Linked DNA regions of Homo sapiens: all the other regions are reported to be linked to region 2. The links are microRNA targets in miRTarBase. Many come from high-throughput screens and were not tested one by one. Region 2 holds a microRNA gene; each other region holds the end of a gene's coding sequence.
The links. Region 2 holds the annotated microRNA hsa-miR-4778-5p (AAUUCUGUAAAGGAAGAAGAGG, at 2,253-2,274, shown strand). A microRNA usually pairs through its seed, bases 2 to 8, with sites in the 3' UTR of a target mRNA and lowers its output. Matches are read on the target gene's strand: a 7mer-m8 pairs with bases 2 to 8, a 7mer-A1 pairs with bases 2 to 7 and ends in A, and an 8mer does both.

Region 1 (5,308 bases), not on the chromosome of region 2:
TTGTTAATCGGGATATGGATGGGGAATGATGGCTTGGATTATAATGCAGGAAACATTTCTTAAGGCCTACTCTGTACTGGCTGTTATTGGCCTGTTTATGAATGGAAAGAAATATAGCAGAATGAATCAGGGAAGAGTCACAGGATCTGAGGTTAGAGAAGTGTATGGAGAGCAAGCGGATCAAGCCTTGCAAGCCAGGTTGTTTATGGTTAATATCAGACTTGTATAAAATTTGTATTGTCTTTCATTTTTTCAGATTTTGAAATCGGAAGTAGCATCAAGGAGGATCCAACACAGATAGTATATAAGGACATGGAACAGCATAGGGCATTAATAGAAAAGTCTAAAAGAGTTGTTTCCCAGAGTACCGACCCCAGCAAATATCGCAAAAGGGAATGCATCTCAGGAAGACAATGGGAAAATCTTCAAGGAATTAGACAGGGAAAGCCGATGTCTCAGCCTAGAGATTTAGGGAAAGCCGTTGTGCATCAGAGGCCTTTTGTGGGGAAGAGACCCTACAGACTTCTCAAATATGGAGAAAGCTTTGGAAGGAGCACTCGTCTGATGTGCCGGATGACCCACCACAAGGAGAATCCTTACAAGTGTGGTGTCTGTGGGAAGTGCTTTGGTAGAAGCAGGAGCCTGATCAGACACCAAAGAATCCACACAGGCGAAAAACCTTTTAAATGTCTTGACTGTGGAAAAAGCTTTAATGACTCCTCAAATTTTGGTGCCCACCAGAGAATCCACACAGGAGAGAAACCCTACAGATGCGGAGAGTGTGGAAAATGCTTTAGTCAGAGCTCTAGTCTTATTATACATCAGAGAACGCACACCGGTGAGAAGCCCTATCAGTGTGGAGAGTGTGGGAAAAGTTTCACCAACAGTTCTCATTTCAGCGCCCACCGGAGAGTTCACACTGGGGAGAATCCCTACAAATGTGTGGACTGTGAAAAAAGTTTCAATAACTGTACGAGATTTCGAGAACATCGGAGAATACACACTGGAGAGAAGCCCTATGGATGTGCCCAGTGTGGCAAACGTTTCAGTAAGAGTTCTGTTCTTACCAAACATCGGGAAGTTCATGTGAGAGAAAAGCCTCTGCCACACCCTCCATCTCTGTATTGCCCTGAGAACCCACATAAGGGAAAGACTGATGAATTTAGGAAAACTTTTTGATGATGATCTTCTCTTCCTAAATGCCCCCTTAGCCATTTTACCCTAATCTCATTCTTGGAAGCAATCTTTTCTTAGCTATGAAGTGTAATTTCCAAGATAAACTTGAGAATATAAATAAACTAAACACTTTCATCCTGTTCTCACCTCTGCCTCTAACTTCATCAGTCTGTTCCTCCTCTTCTGTGTGTCTCAGCTTCTCCTTTAAGAATGTGGCGAAGATACATTGTCCGAGTTCAGAATGAAATACCCTTCAGTACATTGAGGCCACTGCAACTGGATTGCTAAGTTCGGCAACATTCAAGATCTTCCATATGGGTGAGAGTTGTCTTCAAGGATATAAAAAATGCCAAAAGTTTTTTTGTTGTTATTACCTACTCCGTGAGATCCTGGATGAAACTTGATAACAGATTTTCACATTTAGATAGAACTTTGAGGAGTCTGATCGGAACTACATCAAATCCATCTTGGTTTTGAAGAGATCCACAAAAGAAGAGTGAAGATTTTATAGCTTTCCTCAGAAGTCTGTTACAGTGTACCTTTTTTTTTTTTTTTGTCAAGAAGTTGATCCAAATAGCTAGGGCAGAATCCCTGTATTGTCACTGAAATCCTGTTACTAATGCCTTGCCCTCCATGGAGGTGAGAAGCAATTGATCACCCCTCATCCTTTTCTGTACCCGAAGACTTAAATCCCCTGGCTGCTGCTTCTCCAGCCTATAAGTAATCCCAGGTCCTCCTACTGTTTCTCATAGCCCTGCACTTGCCTCTCAGTTGCTCTGGGTGCTCCTGCCGGCCTCTTCCGAACTACCATGCCCTCCTCAGATAGAATAGGAGGCCTGCTCGTGGTGTGTCTCACTAAAGCAAAGTAGGATTTCAGATGCGTTCTAGTTCTATCCTCTAACTTCTCTGGCTCTTATCTAGAACATGACTGGCATGTTGGCATATTTCGTACCTCCCACCCCTGCACTGCAGTATAATATTATAATAGTGTTTCTAAAACTTTAAGGGGATAGGGAAGAGGTAATAGACACCTGAAGCATTTCTAAGACCAGTTGGACTCCTTTGGCCTGCTGTCGATCAGATAGCCACCTCAGCTTAGACCAGCGCTCTCAGGTCTGGCTGTTAAATCTCCCAGTCTCTTTTCCTGAGGCTTCTAGTCCCTGTTCACCGCATCAGAAACCTAACTGTAGTGTGCCAAGTAACTTAACACAACTCTAGAGCTCACTGGGTGAAAAGTGGGAACATTTATAAAAACTTCAATCCAGAAATCCAGAACACCGTTTTTGTTTTCCTCATTTACTTGTTTTGTCTGAAAAATCTCTTTGAGAACCCCCGGCAGTAACCCAGTAAACACTGAAGGAAAAGTTCTGATGGGGGATGGTTAATTGACTTTTGAAGTTACAGATGAAACCCAGAGATTTGATTTTCCATGGCCAGTTGCTTCAGGATGGAGTCAGTGGCGTTTATTCCCTTAGTATGTAGGTGACCCAGGGTGGCTTTGCTTTGGCAAGGGAGAAGTCACAAGTTTAATGGGAAGGGAACCGGAGTTAGGGCTGTTTGTGGGTGATTATTTTGCTCTTCTCTCTCCCTTTCTTTGTCAAATGCTCTTATTTGAAGCCATCTGGAAATGATATTTTTCCTTTTGGTATGTTTCAATCTTTTGAAACTTGTTCAGCAAAGTACCTAGGAGGGTAGGCACTGTAGAAAGAAATCTAATTTATGGTGCCAGAATAGGGTGTGGCCTGTTGGAAGGCAGGTGACTCAGGTAGACATTGATAAATGTTTCTGATTTACATTTGTTGGAAATATTATGACTGTTCACATCTCAATAGGTTGATTTTTCTGTGTTGTCCAAGTTATAGATTTCTAATGCTAAGTACAGTTCCATGTTGGTAGTGTGCGTAGCACAGTAAGATGTTTGTGGTGCCAGTGGGCTTGTGTTTATATTGTGTAGATGTTCTGGAATTCCAGCTCTAGAGAAGATGTAAATTAATAGAAATCACCACTTAATAATATGTACACAGGATTGATATTATGTGGAAGCATGATTCAGGAAAGTAGATGACTTATTCATAAATATGAAGCACTGTTACATGTAAGGCCATGTTCTAGCCACAGTGAATGATAGAAAAAGGAAGGAAGGGGCATGGTGCCTGGGCTCAAGGAACTCACAGTTTGATAGAGGAAGCATCACAGCAAAAGTTGGGGCCACTTACACCATGGCAGTTACAGAAGGCCAGGAGCTCAGTCATGAGAACATCACCTTCCCCTGCAGAAGAGTTGCGCTAAGTTGCCCAGAATCATATTCTGTACCTTCATCTCTCAACCTTCCCCAGTGGCAGGAAAGGGTCAAGCAAGACCCATTCCCTCTCTAGTGGGACAAACTGATTCTGTTTAACTCTCATATGCCTGGGAGCAAGCTGAGGTGGAATTTGGGTTCCCCTATCTCTACTCCTAATTGTAAATGGGCTGTCTAGACATGTGTTACATTAATTTGATGAACTTTGTTCTGAAGAAATGGAAGGTCTCCCCCCCATTTTAGACCAACACTACCTGTCTCCCTGCATTTTATTTGTTTTCACCTGGTACATGTAAGTCAAAATGAATAATCATGTTCTGACCAATGTGTCTTTTAGATCACATAACATTGCCTTTATGAAGATTCATAGAAAAAGGTTTTTTTATCTAGATCTCAGTGCCAAGGAAAGCTCTGATCCTAAGCGCAGTATGTGTACACACACACGTCTACATGTGTGTGTAGATCTGTATGTATGTATTACAAACACTGTGATTTTTGTAACTTAAGCTGCTTTTTCTCTCTTTGTTCTGGCTGCTGGAAAGTTCAACAAAACTTACAGCCCACCTCAACCAACTACCCCAACCTATATTTATTTAATTTCATCTTATTTCCTTGTAAATTGTGTCAAATCCTGTTTTTGAAAAGCAGCATAGACTGACAACTTTTCACTATCATCTTATCGAAGGCATTTTGGAAACTGGGGTCGTATGTCCCACCTAGGCTTGCTTTGTTACTGCCACAAATACCTCCAGTTCTTACCAGTGATGTTATTATGCATTCAACCTAATTCATTCATCTGGAAAGAAACAGTTTTTTAAAAAGGGAAACCTCACACGTAAATGGCTCAGGGCAGCCTGGCCTTGGTGGAATGAGCATGAGACTGGAAGCTGAAAGAAGCAAGTTTTAATCTTGTCACTAAATGAGTGTTGTTTGACACATCATAGCCTCTCTGGGCCTCGGCTCCTCATCTGAAGAGAAGTTGAACTTAACTGCTAAGTTGCTCTGGCTCTAATGTTTCATGAGGCTGTGGAGCGTGATATAGATGCGGAAGAGGTTAGAAGACCAGGCTGCCGGCCCAGCTGTCCTGTGCCTGCCACATCTGGCCATACCAAATCCATCGCATGCTTCAGGAAAGGGAGGGGATGCTGTGACAGCAAACTCAGCCCAGGAGCTTGTTGGGGAAGGAGAAAGGGCAAGTCCCTCGTGGTCCACAGCAGGCACCCCCCAAGCACCTCGATAACCAGTGGCAGGTAGGCTGAAGTGAAGGAAGCCTCTGTCAGGAGGTCTGGCGCCCAGTGACAGACAAGACAGCTGTGAGGGAGCTGGGGCAGCCCTGGCTAAAGGAATGTCTGAGTAACTTGTGAAACTGGAAGCCTCTGCCTCTGAATGCATTCCAAGACCTGGTGCAAATGGATGTCCATTCATTGTTTTGTATCAGTGTTCACTTAGATGTCTTCTTGAAAACTTGTTTGTGGAATAAATGTCTAAAATAAATGGCTCCCACTGGTTTCTGCCATAATTTGAAGGGCGTCATTCTATTAAGAGAAAATATAATGTACCAAGAAGTTGATAAAAGCTGATCTTACCAGCCAATGAAAAGAATTCCAGTCTCATTCTAGTTCAGTGTTGTCCCCCACAAGTAGCAGGGGTCTTTTGTGAGTCCACAGCTGTGTGCAGCCGTCCTCTGGTGGTTGTCCCTGCCATTGTCCCAGTAATGGTCATCTCCAGTGCTAGGAGGGAATTAGCCTTGGATACACGTGCTGCCTGTGTTTCTGAGGCACTCCCCCATAGCCTAATGGTGGAAGAAGTCTTAAAAGTTTCTTCGAAGATACA
Region 2 (5,308 bases):
CACACACACACACACACACACATATACCATGGAATACTGCTCAGCCAAAGAAAGGAATGAAATAATGGGATTTGCAGCAACCTGGATGGAATTGGAGGCTATTATTCTAAGTGAAGTAACTCAGGAATAGATAACCAAACATACATGTTCTCACTCATATGTGGGAACTAAGCTATGAGAATGCAAAGGCATAAGAATGATATATTGGAGTTTGGAGACTCAAAGGAAAGAGTGGGGGAGAGGGAGGGATAAAAGACTACACATTGGGTACAGTATACAATGCTTGAGTGATGGGTGCAACAAAATCTCAGAAATCCCCACTAATGAGCATATTCATGTAACAAAATACCATCTGTTCCCCAAAACTTATTGAAATAAAAAATAAAAAATTAATGATAATAACAATAAAAAGAAGTTTATTTGTCTTATGTTTCTGGAGGCCAGGAAGTCCAAGATCAAGGGGTTGCATCTAGTGGGGGTCTTCTTGCTGAGTCATAACCTGGCAGAAGACATCACATGAAGAGAGAATGGATGAGAGCCAGCAAGCAAGAGAGGGCCAAACTTGCTTTTATAACAAACCCATTCCTGACATCATGAACTTACCCCTGCCATAATGACATTAATCCATTCCAGGGGGCAAAGCTCTCATGACCTAATCACCTCTCAAAAGTGCCACCTCTCGATGCTGTTGCATTGGGGATTAAGTTTCCAACACATGAACTCTGGGGAGATGCATTCAAACCTTAGCAGTTTAATACAATCCAGTCAGCTTTTTGAAGGGCTTCATTGGTCTTCCCGGGAAATAGTTGCTTTTATTTTTGGTTTTCTACCATTTTCTTTTCCCCTCAGTTGCTTTTAGTAGAAAAGGGAGCTTTGGTAAAATTTTCTGATACAGTGTCAAACATATCAGTAACGGCTCACTAATGGCATTGCATTCAAACCTCAGAAACAGTTTTTGTCTTGTGTGTGACCTATATGCCACTGCACTGCTGAGCATCCAATTCTCCATGAATATCAATGATTTCCTCTGGTGGTGACCCTGATGAACTTCCCAGGCAAGTTTCCAAACTTTCATGGCTCATAGGTGGCTCCTGTGTCCTCACAGGTGGTGGCCTTGTGTCCCTGGAGTCTTCGAAGCAAACTGCTTCTTTGTTTCTTTGGATATAAAAGCTTATCAAATGGCTTTTTCAATATCATCCTCTTTTCAAAAGTGGATGAAGGGTTTATAGTCTTCAAAATATGATAACACTCAGAAGTGCATTTTTCTCAGTATTGTTTTGAAAGCATAAGCACTTATAAACAATGATTTTTAACCTTGGATGGGGGGACCAATAAGTTATTGTTAGGTGTCTATTAATCTACTTGTTGTGCAAGCATTCTCTAGAGTCTGAGTAAATAATATTTTAAAAGCTTTACTGAGATTATTGGCCATTTTTGTCAGTATGTTTTCTTAAGTCATACTAAAAGTTCAACTCATATCACTAAGGGGGTATGAAATTATTTTTTTCTTGGGGCGGGGAAGTATGAGATATAAAATTCTCAACTTCCAAGTGATATGATTTGGCTCTGTGTCCCCACCCAAATCTCATGTTGAATTGTAACCCCCAGTGTTGGGGGAGGGACCCGGTAAGAGGTGATTGGATTATGGGGGTAGATTTTTCCCATGCTGTTCTTGTGATAGTGAGTTATCATGAGATCTGGTTGTTTAAGAGTGTGTAGCACTTCCCTCTTTGCTCTCTCTCTCCTGCTGCCATGTAAAGATGTGCTTGCTTCCCATTTGCCCTGCCTCCATGATTGTAAGTTTCCTGAGGCCTCCCCTGCCATGTCTTCTATACAACCTGTGGAGCTGTGAGTCAATTAAATCCCTCTTTATAAACTACCCATACTCAGGTAGTTCTTTATAGCAGTGTGAGAACAGACTAATACACCAAGTAATAAAACCTCAACTTAAAGTAGCTGAAGTCAAAAGGAGAAGTTGTTGGCTCAGATTGTTCAGAGGTATGTTGAGCTCCATTTGCCTTTGTTCAGCTTCAGGCAAGCTTTTTCCATAAGGTGGTGAGAGCATCCTGGTGCTTGCCACATGAATACATGATCCTGAAGCTTTGTGAACTCAAGAGAGACTTTATCCCAACAATCAAACTCCAAAGCAGTGTTTGGATTGGTTATCCCTACTTCATGTATTTCTCTCTGGACTAATCACAGGCATTAAGACATATAAGGTAAACTGACTGGTCAGTGTAAATCACATGTCCAATTCTGTAAAGGAAGAAGAGGTAAGAAGAAGTGAAGCCCTCTTCTTCCTTTGCAGAGTTGAATATGTGGCTTATAGTCCTTCTAGAGTCAACATGGAGAGAGAGAGGAGACACTTTCCAAACAAAAAAAGGATGTGATGAATAGACAAGCAATTCTTGTCCACTGAAAAAAGGGTTCTTATATTTGCTTCATATTTATAAGTCTTAGGGATATTATTCTAGAATTACATTATTATTTTCTTGATGTTTGCACTACAGTTCTCCTCTAGGTATTAGAGGTCAGCTAAGCACAAATGAGATGAATGGGAATACTCTGGGAGGCACTGTTTCTGCAGCCAATCCCAAAGAGGTTTGTATGCCTGTGTGTGTTTGGGTGCGAGAAGAAGAAGAATGAAGTGTCAGAAGGAGAGCTGTCAAAATGAAATATCAAAATTCCCTTAAAATCCAAATCTCAATTCTGTTCTGTAAGTTTAAAACAAAACAAAATGAACTTGCACACATACACACACCACTAGGACCACCACTACAATCACCACTACCAAACAGATGCAAGCTATAAGGTTTTAATTCCAAAAAGACCCAGAATATTTCTATTCCTTATTTGTCTTTAATTATTGTGTTCTTTTTGTATGGGCACCCTAGATTGGGAGATTCAGCCCTAGGATTAGAGCTCGGAGTAGCATGGATCTCATTCCCAGGTCTCCATTTCTTGGCTAGCTTCTTTTCCCTGGACAATCCATTCCTTCACAGGAGTCAGTAATTCTGCAACTAATCTAATGCCCATTTACTTTCCTTATCTGACTCTGTCTGTCAGTCTTTTCACTTTCATCTCTTCTGGCATTACTCCTCATTTCCTTAATTTTCCCTACATTTTCCCATTATGTGAAATAAAAACACTTCAAATCCTTATTTCACTTTTCTCAGCTATAGGTATTACAGACAACTGGCATACCATGAAGATAAGCTGACTCTTACAAGAGTAATACAATGATGATGAAAATGAACATTGAGTCCTTATTATTTCCTAGACACTCTATCTATTATTATCTATTTAATCCTCACGCCAACCTAATGGGATGGAGTAGTAGATCCATGTTAGTTTTATTTGAGAGGTTTCAGCCTTTGAATGGCTGAGTTCAGCCTTTGAACCCATTTCTTACATTTGAGAAATTTCTAATAATATGAATTTTGCTTGAATTTCCCAGTATGGAAGTCAAAAAAATTCTTGTCCCAGGCTACCCTGCAGCTAAGGTATGAACACATCACCTATACTCAGCCAAACAGAGGTACCTGCCTCAGACTTTAAATTTGCATTGAGAGATGCAAAAATCAGGAAAGCAGAGAATTTATTTCTCCTTTAATGGTTGCAGAGGTGGCTTCAACATCAGCTTCCAGGGTTTACAGAGGCTGTGGTGGTGACATTAAATGTTTAAGTTCAGTAGCAATAACAGATAAGCCTCAGTATTCAGTGTCAGCAACAGTCAGGTGGAGTGATAGAGTCTCCACCTCACTCACATTGTGGCATCATTTTGGCTGTGGCTCAGGCTGTTACCTGCACCCCTTCTTTATGCCATTTCTGAGTCTGGTAGTTCAGCCTTCCCAATGTTTTCATAAACATAAAATACAGTGTTGTGGAGTTGAGCCACAAAGAAGCCTTTTCTACGTGCTTTCTCATACCCTTGCAATAAATTCCCTACTGTCTAATCAGCCATAGTTAGTTTATATCACTTGAAACAAAGAAATTTGATGGGAACAGAGATCATATTTTAAATTTCCTTCTATAGATTTGTAAACTCAGGCTTTTTTTTATTATTGTTATTTTTGGACAGAGTTTGGCTCTTGTCACCCAGGCTGGAGTGCAGTGGTGTGATCTCGGCTCACTGCAACCTCCGCCTCCTGGGTTCAAGCAATTCTCCTGCCTCAGCCTCCTGAGTAGCTGGGGTTACAGGCATGCACCACCATACCAGGCTAATTTTTTGTATTTTTAGTAGAGATGGGGTTTTGCCATGTTGGGCAGGCTGGTCTTGAACTCCTGACCTCAGGTGATCCACTCACCTTGGCCTCCCAAAGTGCTGGGATTACAGGCATGAGCCACCGTGCCCAGCCAATCCAGGCTTAAAGAAACAAATCTATTGCACAAGGTCAAACACAGAGTCTGGGGTCTGGCTGTTTGGAGAGCCAAGATTTGTCTCCCACCCTCATGCAAGCAGGGAAGAAAGTACTACCAATAAATGAGATTGGTCTGAAAGTAACTTAGAAAAATTAGGCATCCTTGATTAATGTCTCAGTTCTGGCTCTAACTAGCTTGATGTGGCTTGTCTCTGTGTCCCCACCCAAATCTCATATTGTAGTTCCATAATTTCCACGTGTTGTGGGAGGGACCCAGTGGAAGATGATTGAATCATGGGGGCAGGTCTTTCCCATGTTGTTCTCGTGATAGTGAATAGGTCTCACGAGATCTGATGATTTTAAAAACCAGAATTTCTCTGCATAAGCTCTCTCTTTGCCTGCTGCCATCCACGTAAGATGTGACTTGCACCTCCTTGCCTTCTGCCACGATTGTGAGGCCTCCCCAGCCGTGGGGGCTGTAAGTCCAATAAACCTCTTTCTTTTGTGAATTGGTTATGTCTTTATCAGCAATGTGAAAACAGACTAATACACTGGCCCTATGCTTTGCATAAGTCATAGTTTATTGGGATAATCTTTCTTTGTCTAGAAAGTAAAAAGTTTGGTCAGCATTGGTGCTTTCTAACTCTTAAGGATGGGGGCATATAGCCATACAAAAACATTTGAAAGGTACTGAACTTCTGTTTAGCAAAATTCACATTCAAATGTGTTATGTCCAACTTCACCCAAGCCCATCCTGGGATGTCAATGAACCCTAGGATGAGAACCTTGAATTAGATGACCTCTTGTTTTGGAGTTTTCCAAGTAAAACTTTGTGTGATTTCATTGTCTGGGTGAATTTGCTATAATTAGAGACCACAATATGTATCTACTTCCCTACCCCCACCTTCTCTTTGTCTTTCTTTCTCTCTCTCTCACTCACACACAGT
Region 3 (5,308 bases), not on the chromosome of region 2:
AGCTTCCTCTGAGTCTAGGAGAATACTACTCTAACACTGAAACCTTGGCTTCACTGAAAACAAAACAACAACAGTAAAAATACTGCTAAAGATGACTTTAGGAATTGCCGCTAAGGCCAAAGAAAAAGTCATTCACATAATAAATTCACTGTGCTCTCAACTATCAAGTGTTGTTGAGTTAAAGCATCTACTTCAGTGACTATGACAATAGATGATGGTATTAAGTTAAAAAAAAAAAAAAAAGGCAACACCAGTAAGTTCTTTTCTGACCACTTCATTCCACATATTTTATTTTTACTAGTCCAGTGTATTTTATTTTTACCAGAAGGGTGGGGGTGGGGGGTTGCTAAAAGACAGAACTCATCCCTTTTTCTGCCTAAAGACTCAGGAGCCATGAGAAAGAAAATGTATGTCTAGAGTCACTACCCTAGAAATCAACTCACTCAGCAATCTCAACCCTAGCTGCAATGTGGATGGGCAGGAATACAGCTGTGTTCCCATCCAGAAGGATAAGACTCTATAGCTGGGCAGCCGTGCAAAGTAAACAAGAACAATTAAAATAACACTGCAGGTTTGTTGTACTCACTGACTGTCCTTACAACAGTCAGGCTTTCAGTAGATAAACCAAGTTCACTCTTGCATATTATGAAGTAGTAAAATACTGCTTTTTATCTGTGTGTCCATGCAGATAAAAGCATCGCCCATAAAATCTTGTAGTTCCTGACTATATTTGTGGCTCTTACCATGTCTCTATGCTAGATATTTTTATAAACAACCAACAACTACATGAGGGCTGCTAACAAAAAATCTATAAGCACCTTTATATAGTCAGCAATTACAGACTCACCCTCTTCTACAGTCTGTGGCCATTAGTGTACACTCACCGTGTCCCTGCTGCCTCCACCACTCCACTGAGACTGCTCTTTTCCTAACATCACTTGGGCTCTCTTCAGTCTTCAACTGTGGTATGACAGGGTTGATCATTCTTTGATTCTTGACATTTTTCCCTTGGTTTCTACCACTCTCTTCTGGCTCTCCTACCTTGCTGCTCATGCCTTCTTAGGCAGTCTTCTTTGAGACTCTTAAATGATGGTGTACCTCACAACTCTCTTCTACCTTCTCATTTTACAAACCCCAGGGTGACCTTGTGAACCTTCAAATAAATAAGTGAACTCATAAATTTGTTTCTCAGTTAGAACCTTTCTGAAACTCTAGATTCACATATCCAATTGTATACTAAAAGGTTTCTCCACTTAAGAGACTCTTTCTACAACCACCTTAAAATCTTGACCAAAACTGAGGACATCCCCATCCAATCCTCCCAACCTAATTCCCCTGTATTCCCATCTGTCAATCTAATTCAATTACCCAAACCAAAATTCCCACTTACCTTAACCTCTTTGCCATGATCTTTTTCTGGTTGTTTATAAATTCCTATCAATTCAACTGTGTCAATTCTTCAATTTTATCTTTTCAATGTGTATCTGTCTCGTCTTCATCTCCACATCACAGCTTTAGTTCAGTGTTTCAACACTTTTCACACAAACGGCTCTTAATTATCATCTAAGTTCCAGATTCCTCAATTATAAACCCTACCTCATAGGACTGTCGTAATGATTACATAAAATAATGCAGGACTAAACACACAGGGTCTGACACATAGCAAACACTCAAATGTTAGGTATTAACTAATAATACTATTCTTAGAGAAATACCTAAATTGTAAAATTTGGGAGGCTATATCTTCAGTATAAACATGAAAATAAACTGGTTTCTCAGTAATAATAACATATAAACCAACCACCCAATATACCCTCTTCCACCTCCAGGTCACCTTGAAACCAAGTCAAAAGTAGTCAAAGTAGTATACTATTGTTTATGGAAATTGGACCTGTATTATGGGATTAACAGTTACTAGAGAGTCTACACTATATCCCAAAATTTCATTCTGTTTTTTTTTTTTTTTTTTAAATCATGGTACCTGTCAGGCAAACAATGAGACCAGGATTGACTAGAACAGTCTCAAGCCCAAAGGGAAATGACAGTATCAAAAGCTAGGGCCAGGTGCAGTGGCTCACACCTATAATCTCAGCACTTTGCGAGGCCGAGGCAGGTGGACCACGTGAGGTCAGGAGTTCAAGACCAGCCTGGCCAATGTGGTGAAACCCTGTTTCTACTAAAAAATACAAAAACAAATTAGCCGGCCGTGGTGGCAGGTGCCTGTAATCCCAGCTACTCTGGAGGCTGAGGCAGGAGAATCGCTTGAGCCTAGGAGGTGGAGGTTGCAGTGAGCTGAGGTCATGCCATTGCACTCCAGCCTGGGTGACAGAGTGAGCCTCTGTCTCAAAAAAAAAAAAAAAAAAAAAAAAAAGCTAGACCAGCTTGATGAATCACGGGGAAATATTTACCGTGCCCTATCATTCTACCCATACAAAATGTAGAGTCTTATACCACTCTAGAAAAAAAAATTTTTTTTTGAGGTGGAGTTTTTTGCTCTTTTTGCTCAGGCTGGAGTACAATGGTGCAATCTCTGCTCACTGCAATCTCCACCTCCCAGGTTCCAGCTATTGTCCTGCCTTAGCCTCCTGAGCAGCTGGGATTACAGGTGCATGCCACCAAAACCAGCTAATTTTTGTATTTTTAGTAGAGACGGGATTTCACCATATTGGTCAGGCTGGTCTCGAACTCCTGACCTCGTGATCCGCCCGCCTCAGCCTTCCAAAGTCCTGGGATTATAGGCGTGAGCCACCGCGCCTGGCCTAGAAATTGTAAAAGCAAAAATTTATAGGGAAATAAAATGTATACCTGTTAATTTAAGGCCCTAAATTTTAGCCAGTTTTCAACTGAGATATGATCATTTCAGCTCACAAAAATAACCTAAGTTGAACCACAGTGGTAATTCATTCTTGGGCTGTGGGCCCTTCATTTATTTGCAACATCATAAAAGTACTATGTTACTAAAATAATCAGAAAGGATTTTGCCTTTGGAAATAAAGTTCAGCTGATTTGCTGCTGACACAATGATCCTTTGGCAAACTGGTGGAAACTGCCTTTAGGAAGCCAATGTTTTAATCATATTTCAAGATATCAAACCAAAAAAACACCCTGAAAAAGCACAAATGACAACACACCATTATTCTCAGTTAGTACATTGGTCACTTAGAAAAAGCTATCAAGTATTTTATTATTTTTATTCTACATTATATACAGGTCATAAAAGGCCACAGCAGTTTTTCAACATATAAACCCTTTAAAAGTAGAGGGCACTATGAAGGATAGACAAGTATCAAAATGAAGTCCAGTAATGAGGGCATATACTCAGTGCAGTATTTCTGAGGAATAACAAAGCAGATACCGAGTCATCCATACTTTGCTTCCAAGTATTCTATACGTTTTTATAAACCTCTTTGAGATTTGTTAACAGCCTAGGTGTGCCAAGTTGCCATTTATTTTAAAAGTGAAACCAGAATGAAAGAATAATGAATCTAGGAGGGTACCTTTCCTAATGCTTGTCATTTACAGCTCTCCAAGAAGGAAAGCCTCAATTCTTTACCACTTTCTACTTCCTCCTTCCATCAAAGATAGGAAAGAGAAAAATCAGGAAAAAAAAGCTCAATATTCTAATTCTTCCTATTTAGCTGGAGCTTTCCTTTTCTATAGGGGTTTCTTCAAAGTATAGTTCAGGCCTTTTAAAAATTAGCTTCAAATTCCAAAACACTTAATATTGCACCCTCCTTGAACAATAACTAAAAAAATTGGTTTCCACTCTGTGAAAATACAATCTTTAAGCCTATCACTGGTATCAGCAGATCAATATAAAAAAATACAGTACCAAGCTACACTGGTATATTTCCATATTAAGAACTTCAAAATATACTTATCACTGAGACCATAGTCCTTGCATTAGTTTTCAGTCCACTATGAACAATTATCTGCTGCATGTAAACATGTCTAAATAACTATAGATAAAATACATCAATCATAAATTTCTGTAAAAGATAATAAAATATCTTCTTTAAAAAACAAAACAATAAGCTATTACTGCATTGTTTCCAATTTTATGAAAATGGAACAACCATATGGTTGTTGCCAGTCCTGAGTTCATTGTAATAAAAATGGCCCTAGTTCCTGGTTAAAGTCAGCAACCAATCCATTCTCTTCAATAGATGTCTTCTAGTGGTGTAGGCAAGAATTTGTTTTACGTGCTATTCTGTCCATTAATAAAATTATATACCAGAAATTGACCAGTGCCACAGTACTGTGTTGCAAACAGCTTTCCATCAGGAGTGGGATCTGAGAAAGCAATTTCTTCTTTGCTCAAATATGAGCCATATATAAAGTTACTCCTATTAAAAAAAAATGGGGGGGGGGAAGGGTTAAGTGTGAAATGTTAAAAAAAAAAAAATTCTAATCATTAAAACTGGAATAACCTGTCAAATACAATTTGACTAAAAAAGCTTTTTAGATACTGCTGTATGTGCTCAAAATTTTTGAAAATAATTATTCATCTATAATATCAATAACCTGAGGTTAAATTTTAATAAAAGCAACAATGTAAAAACATTTACCCAACATCTTTTCATGATAAAAATATTCAACTAAGAGTAGAAATATTTCCTCAACCTGATCAAAGACATCAAGGAATATCAGAGTTAATGGTGAATGACTGAAAACTGTTCCTCAAAGATCAGGAATAAGAGAAGACTACTCTCACCTCTTCTATTCAATATTGTATTGGAGGTTCTCGTCATGAGGAAAAGAAATAAAAATCATCCAGATTGGAAAGAAAGAAATAAAACTATCTCTTTTGCAGATGAAAAGGCCTTGTTTATAGAAAATCCTAAAAAATTCACAAAAACAAACAAAAAATCTAATAAACGAGTCTGGCAAGGCTGCATATTCAAGATTGATATTCAAAAGTAAACTGTTTCTATACACTTGTAATGAACAACCTAAAACTGAAATTTAGGGGGAAAAAAGTCCATTTATAATAACATCAAAAAAAATTAAATACTTGCCAGGCACAGTGTCTCACACCTGTAATCCCAGCATTTTGGGAGGCCAAGGTGAGAGGATTGCTTAAGCCCAAGAGTTCAAGGCCAGCCCAGGCGACATAGCAAGACTCCGACTGTACCAAAACAAATGAAATTTTTGCCAGGCACATGGCTATGGTCTCAGCTACTCAGGAGGCTGAGGCAGGAGGATTTCCTGAGCCCAGGATGTTGAGGATGAAGTGAGCTGTGTTTGCACCACTGCACTCCAGCCTGGGTGACAAAGTGAGATGCTGTCTCCAAAAAAGAAAAAAAAT
Region 4 (5,308 bases), not on the chromosome of region 2:
CCTTATAGTCTTACAACCTTTAAAAATATTGGATATGATTGTCTAACTTGTGACAACTTGATGAACAAACATGTTTCATTTTAATTTACATTTCTCTCATCACTAGAGACTTAGTATTTCTTCTTTTGTGAATTTCTTATTTGTATCATTTGCCTATCTTTCCATTGAGTTATGTTTTGCTAACTGATTCACAGGATCAATTAACTATTTCAATCATGACATAGGTGGCAAATAACTTTCTCTAAACTTTATTTATAGTAGCTTTCACAGAATACAGAAGTTTTATATTTTTATGTGGATATATTTGTCAACTTGTTGGGATTTCGATAAATGTTTTTTCTATTTTTGAGATGGAGTTTCGCTCTTGTTGCCTAGGCTGGAGTGCAATGGTGCGATCTCGGCTCACTGCAACATCTGCCTACCGGGTTCAAGCGATTCTCACGCCTCAGCCTCCCGAGTAGCTGGGATTACAGGCATGCACCACCACGCCTGGCTAATTTTGTATTTTTAGTAGAGACGGGGTTTCTCCATGTTGGTCAGGCTGGTCTCAAACTCCCAACCTCAGGTGATCCACCCACCTAGGCCTCCCAAAGTACTGGAACTACAGGCATGGGCCACTGCACCTGGCCTCAATAGATTTTTGAAAAACTGTCATCTCCAGAATTTTCAATTGTCCTATCTAGGAACATAGTATATCTCTCCTTTTTAAGTGTTATAGCTTATTTTAGAAGTCTATTCCCAGACTTTAAAAAGTCTATTTTACAGTTTTGTTTGCAATTATAAATAGGATCTGTTTTCCATTTCTGATTGGTGACAACTGATATACAGTAAAACTATATTAATTTTGCATGTATCCACTTTGGCTTCAGAAAACTCACCTTCAGAACTGGAATCTTCATTTCTTTGTTGACCTATGGCTTTGTGTTTATGGTTAAATTATGTGCTTTGTCAATAGGTATAGAAATTCCACATATTCTTATTCTTGTGTGCTTTTTTGGTATTGTACTGATGCTGTGAGATGCATCTACAGGAAAATAAGAACTAACTTAAACACAGTTTGACTAAAATCTTAATTTTAATGTTCTGAATTAGATGTTGTACAAACTACCTGCCATATTCCCCCAGCTTCGAATCTACATATGCTTCTCAAATCTGACTCTCCTGCTATATACCATTTCTAACTTCCGCTAAAAGATTGTGTTAGAAAGTCCTGCTGGGCCTCTGAGCCTGGATATTTGCAATTAGAATTCATATACCCCACTTTCACTAGATCTCAATAGTCAAAGCAAAATTATATTTGGGCAACCCCTTGTGTGAATACAGAAAACTTAAAAAAAATAACCAAATAAAAAACATTTAATTAAAGCTGGTTATGGTGGTATGCACCTGTAGTCCTAGCTACTTAGGAGGCTGAGGCAGGATGATTGCTTGAGGTCAGAAATTCTAGGCTGCAGTGTGCTATGACTGTGCCTATGAATAGCTACTGCACTCCAGCCTGGGCAACATGGTGAGATACCCATGTGTAAAAAAGTTTTCTTTTTTTCTTTTTTTGAGACGGAGTCTTGTTCTCTCAGGCTGGAGTGCAGTGGCACAATCTTAGCTCACCACAACCTCTGCTTCCCTGGCTCAAGTAATTCTCCTGCCTCAGCCTCCTGACTAGCTGGGATTACAGGTGTGTATCACCATGTCCTGCTAATTTTGCATTTTTAATAGAGATGGGGTTTCTCCACGTTGGTTGGGCTGGTCTCGAACTTCCGACCTCAGGTAATCCACCTGCCTCAGCCTGCCAAAGTGCTGGGATTACAGGCGTGAGCCACCACACCCAGCCATGAATTACTTTATCTAATTAAACTATTAAATAACCAGTTAAAATCCATTTGAAATATAAATATATGATTATAAGAATAGGCAGGGTGCAGTGGCTTACACCTGTAATCCCAGCACTTTGGGAGGCTGAGGTGGGAGGATCAACTGAGCTCAGGAATTTGAGACCAGCCTGGCCAACATAATGAGACCTTGTCCTTACTAAAAATAAAAAAAATAGCTAGGTGTGGTGGCGCATACCTCTAGTCTCAGCTATTTGGGAGGCTTAGTTGGCATAACTGCTGAGCCCCAGGGGTCAAGGCTTTAGTGGACCATGACCATGCCACTGCACTCCAACCTGGGTGACACAGCAGAACTCAATCTCAAAAAATAAATAAATAAATTAGCATATGCTATATAAGAATAGAGTGCGACATCTTTCAGAATTTTGTGACAGTCAAGCCTGTTGTTGACATGTTTATATACTTCACAGGAACTTTATTTATTTATTTATTTTTGAGACGGAGTTTCACTCTTGTTGCCTAGGCTGGAGTGCAATGGTGCGATCTCGGCTCACTGCAACCTCCGTCTCCTGGGTTCAAGCAATTCTCCTGCCTCAGTCTCCCGAGTAGCTGGGATTACAGACATGTGCCACCACACCTGGCTAATTCTGTATTTTTTTTAGTAGAGACAGGGTTTCCCCATGTTGGTCAGGCTGGTCTAGAACTCCTGACCTCAGGTGATCTGCCTGCCTCGGCCTCCCAAAGTGCTGGGATTACAGGCGTGAGCCACTGCGCCCAGCCAGGAACTTTCAGGAACTTTATTGTGTAGTCTTATGGCATGAAAGTACAATATCATATCTACCTATCTGTATCAATATATCTTTTTTTTTTCCTTTTTCCTTTTTTTTTCTTTTTTTTTTTTGAGACAGAGTCTCACTCTGTCCCCCAGGCTGGAGTGCAGTGGCACAATCTCAGTTCACTGCAACCTCCACCTCCCGGGTTCAAGTGATTTTCCTGCCTCAGCCTCCCGAGTAGCTGGGACTACAGGCGCCCGCCACCATACCTGGCTAATTTTTGTGTTTTTAGTAGAGATGGGGTTTCACCACATTGGCCAGGCTGGTCTCGAACTCCTGACCTTGTGATCTGCCCGCCTCAGCCTCCCAAAGTGCGGGATTACAGGTGTGAGCCACAGCGCCCGGGCCTATATCAATATATCTTAAAATTTCTAAGCCACTATCTTTAATAAACATGTGAATTATTAATCTCATCTGCTACTAATAATGACTATAAGAAAGAAATCTGGAGTTATTTAAATTAATATGAATGAAAAATGGAACAGGGAATTCAGGTTAAAGAAAAAAGCTCAGTGATAAAATATTCAATAACACTAAAATATAGAATATATATTAAATTTAAATAACGTCAGCCAACTTTCCTCAAAATATGTCATATAGACACTAAAATAACTGTAAGTCAGCACATTTATATAGTGATTATATACTGCGATGACATTCAGCATTCTCTTAAAAGGGCAAATTTCAAATTTGAAACGACTTTCATTTTTCTCTAGGTATAATTTCTAGATACATAACAATGCTTGCATTGAGAATCTTGCAAAAATTAAAAACCCTGTATCATCATCAAATGAGAGAATTTATCAGTGAATGGGAGAAAACATACTATTCACTGAGAAAATAGAATGGCAAAGATACACAGATAAAAGAGAAACAAGAAGAATATTAAACAGTATTTTACAGTTCCTAGTGTTAGATGGTAGAATGCCAGGACCTTTTGTGATACTGCCCATCTTGTCAAGGACAGGACATGTGGAAGAAGAGAAGCCATTTAAGTTTCATTAATTAAAACGATGAGAATGTAGCCACCGATTACATTTCACACTAAAGTCTAACTTTGTCTAAATACAGCTAATTCTACTAAGGCCATATTAAATAGTTTGATCAAGGGCCACTATTTCCTCTTTAAACTAGGATTTCTTTATTCCATAGTGACCCTAGGTGACTATAATATTTTATTCATCTATTTTCAGAAAACTGATAAAAAATGTCTTCATAAGAACACAGAGATACTCTCTATCTCTAAAAAGAAACTGTACAATTATATATTAGCTACAGAAATAATCCCAGTGCTTTAGAAAACAAAGGCCACTTTCTGTAGAGAGCTGGCATACACTGTGATTTTTTTGACCAATTTAATATTTTTCAGGACTAAATATCATTTTAATCTAACAATTTAAATGTAATAATTGCATTTCACATGGCAGGAAAACTCACCAATTTGTAAAAGCACCACATTCTCAAATAGCTATGGTAAGATCAAATACTCATCAAGGTCAAAGATTGAATATATCTCCCTAAGCATTTACTTTGCTTTATGAAATTTGATTTTCAATGAAAATGAAATGTTTTCTTATCTAATTTCCTTTAGAAATACTTAATTATGTTCTTTAGTTCTCAGTAATGACCTTTTAACATGAAATTTAAATATGAAGCTATTCTGTAATTCATTCATTTTCAATATGCCAGTTCAGGGAAAATGTCTGCATTTCCAGGACTTTTGCCAGAGTTGTAGATTTTAAAGTTAAAAAGTACAAAGACTTGTTGTATTCTAGAAAACTCATTGCTTCTGAGTTGGTGCATCACAATATGGCACATTTTCTACAAGAAGGTCTTTCCTAGGGACCAGTTCTGAAAGAAAAAAAAAAAAGAGAATAATTAACATCACTAAAATTAGAATTAAATGCAAGGACACTCATTTCCCCCTAAAATTTAAAATAGTAAAATATCCAGTTTTAAGATAAATCTTCCAGGGATATTTTATTTCAGTTGATATCTAAGGTGGCATCCTTGACTCTAATTAGAATTAATAGCATTCTCATTTCAGATTATATAAAAACATATATGATCCACTTAACCCTTTATCATTAAATATAGCAAATCAAATAACTGAAGAGAATTCAGCTAAAACTTCTATTATTGGTCATTTAATTACCAATTACTGATAATGAAAACAACTGGAAATTTTGCTTATACTATCTACTATATGAAAAGCAAGACTGGTCTCCTAATTTAAAGATTCTAAATTTTAAATAACAATTGTTCTTAAAAGAGGGTGTTTTGTGTGGTCATATCAACTGGAGAATGCTACTGGAATTTAGTGGGCAGGAGCCAGGGATGCTAAACCTTCTGTAATGGGTGGAACAGTCTGGCATAGTGAAGAACTGTCCTGTCAAAAATGCCAATAGTGCCCACATTGAGAAATATCATAAAACAACAACAAAAACCTGTTGAGTCCTAGGTAAGACATCTTGCTGGAGTTAAGATAAAGCTCTTAAGATACAAATTTTTGGCCGGGTGTGGTGACTCACGGCTGTAATCCTAGAACTTTGGGAGGCTAAGGAGGGATGATCATTTGAGGTCTAGAGTTGGAAACTAGCCTGACTAACATGGTGAAACCCCATCTCTACTGAAAAAAAAAAAAAAAAT

Region 1: miRTarBase lists ZKSCAN2 as a target of hsa-miR-4778-5p. Seed matches in the 3' UTR shown: 7mer-A1 at 2,903-2,909.
Region 3: the mRNA of ESCO1 is a reported target of hsa-miR-4778-5p. The part of its 3' UTR that is shown has no 7-base or 8-base seed match.
Region 4: the mRNA of LYRM7 is a reported target of hsa-miR-4778-5p. Seed matches in the 3' UTR shown: 8mer at 4,316-4,323 and 7mer-m8 at 2,471-2,477.

The regions. Positions count from the first base shown.
Region 1 is chr16:25,235,687-25,240,994 of GRCh38, reverse strand. It overlaps ZKSCAN2 (zinc finger with KRAB and SCAN domains 2), which reads left to right. Exons shown (of 7, transcript NM_001012981.5): 7 at 257-4,994. The coding sequence ends at 1,179. Among named protein-coding and RNA genes, the nearest start is that of ZKSCAN2-DT, 19 kb to the left of the region's middle.
Region 2 is chr2:66,355,263-66,360,570 of GRCh38, reverse strand. MIR4778 (microRNA 4778) reads left to right here and starts at 2,243; the gene lies at 2,243-2,322.
Region 3 is chr18:21,526,145-21,531,452 of GRCh38, forward strand. ESCO1 (establishment of sister chromatid cohesion N-acetyltransferase 1) reads right to left here. Exons shown (of 12, transcript NM_052911.3): 12 at 3,140-4,346. The coding sequence ends at 4,199. Among named protein-coding and RNA genes, the nearest start is that of ESCO1, 72 kb to the right of the region's middle.
Region 4 is chr5:131,198,733-131,204,040 of GRCh38, reverse strand. LYRM7 (LYR motif containing 7) reads right to left here. Exons shown (of 5, transcript NM_181705.4): 5 at 1-4,510. The coding sequence ends at 4,440. Among named protein-coding and RNA genes, the nearest start is that of LYRM7, 30 kb to the right of the region's middle.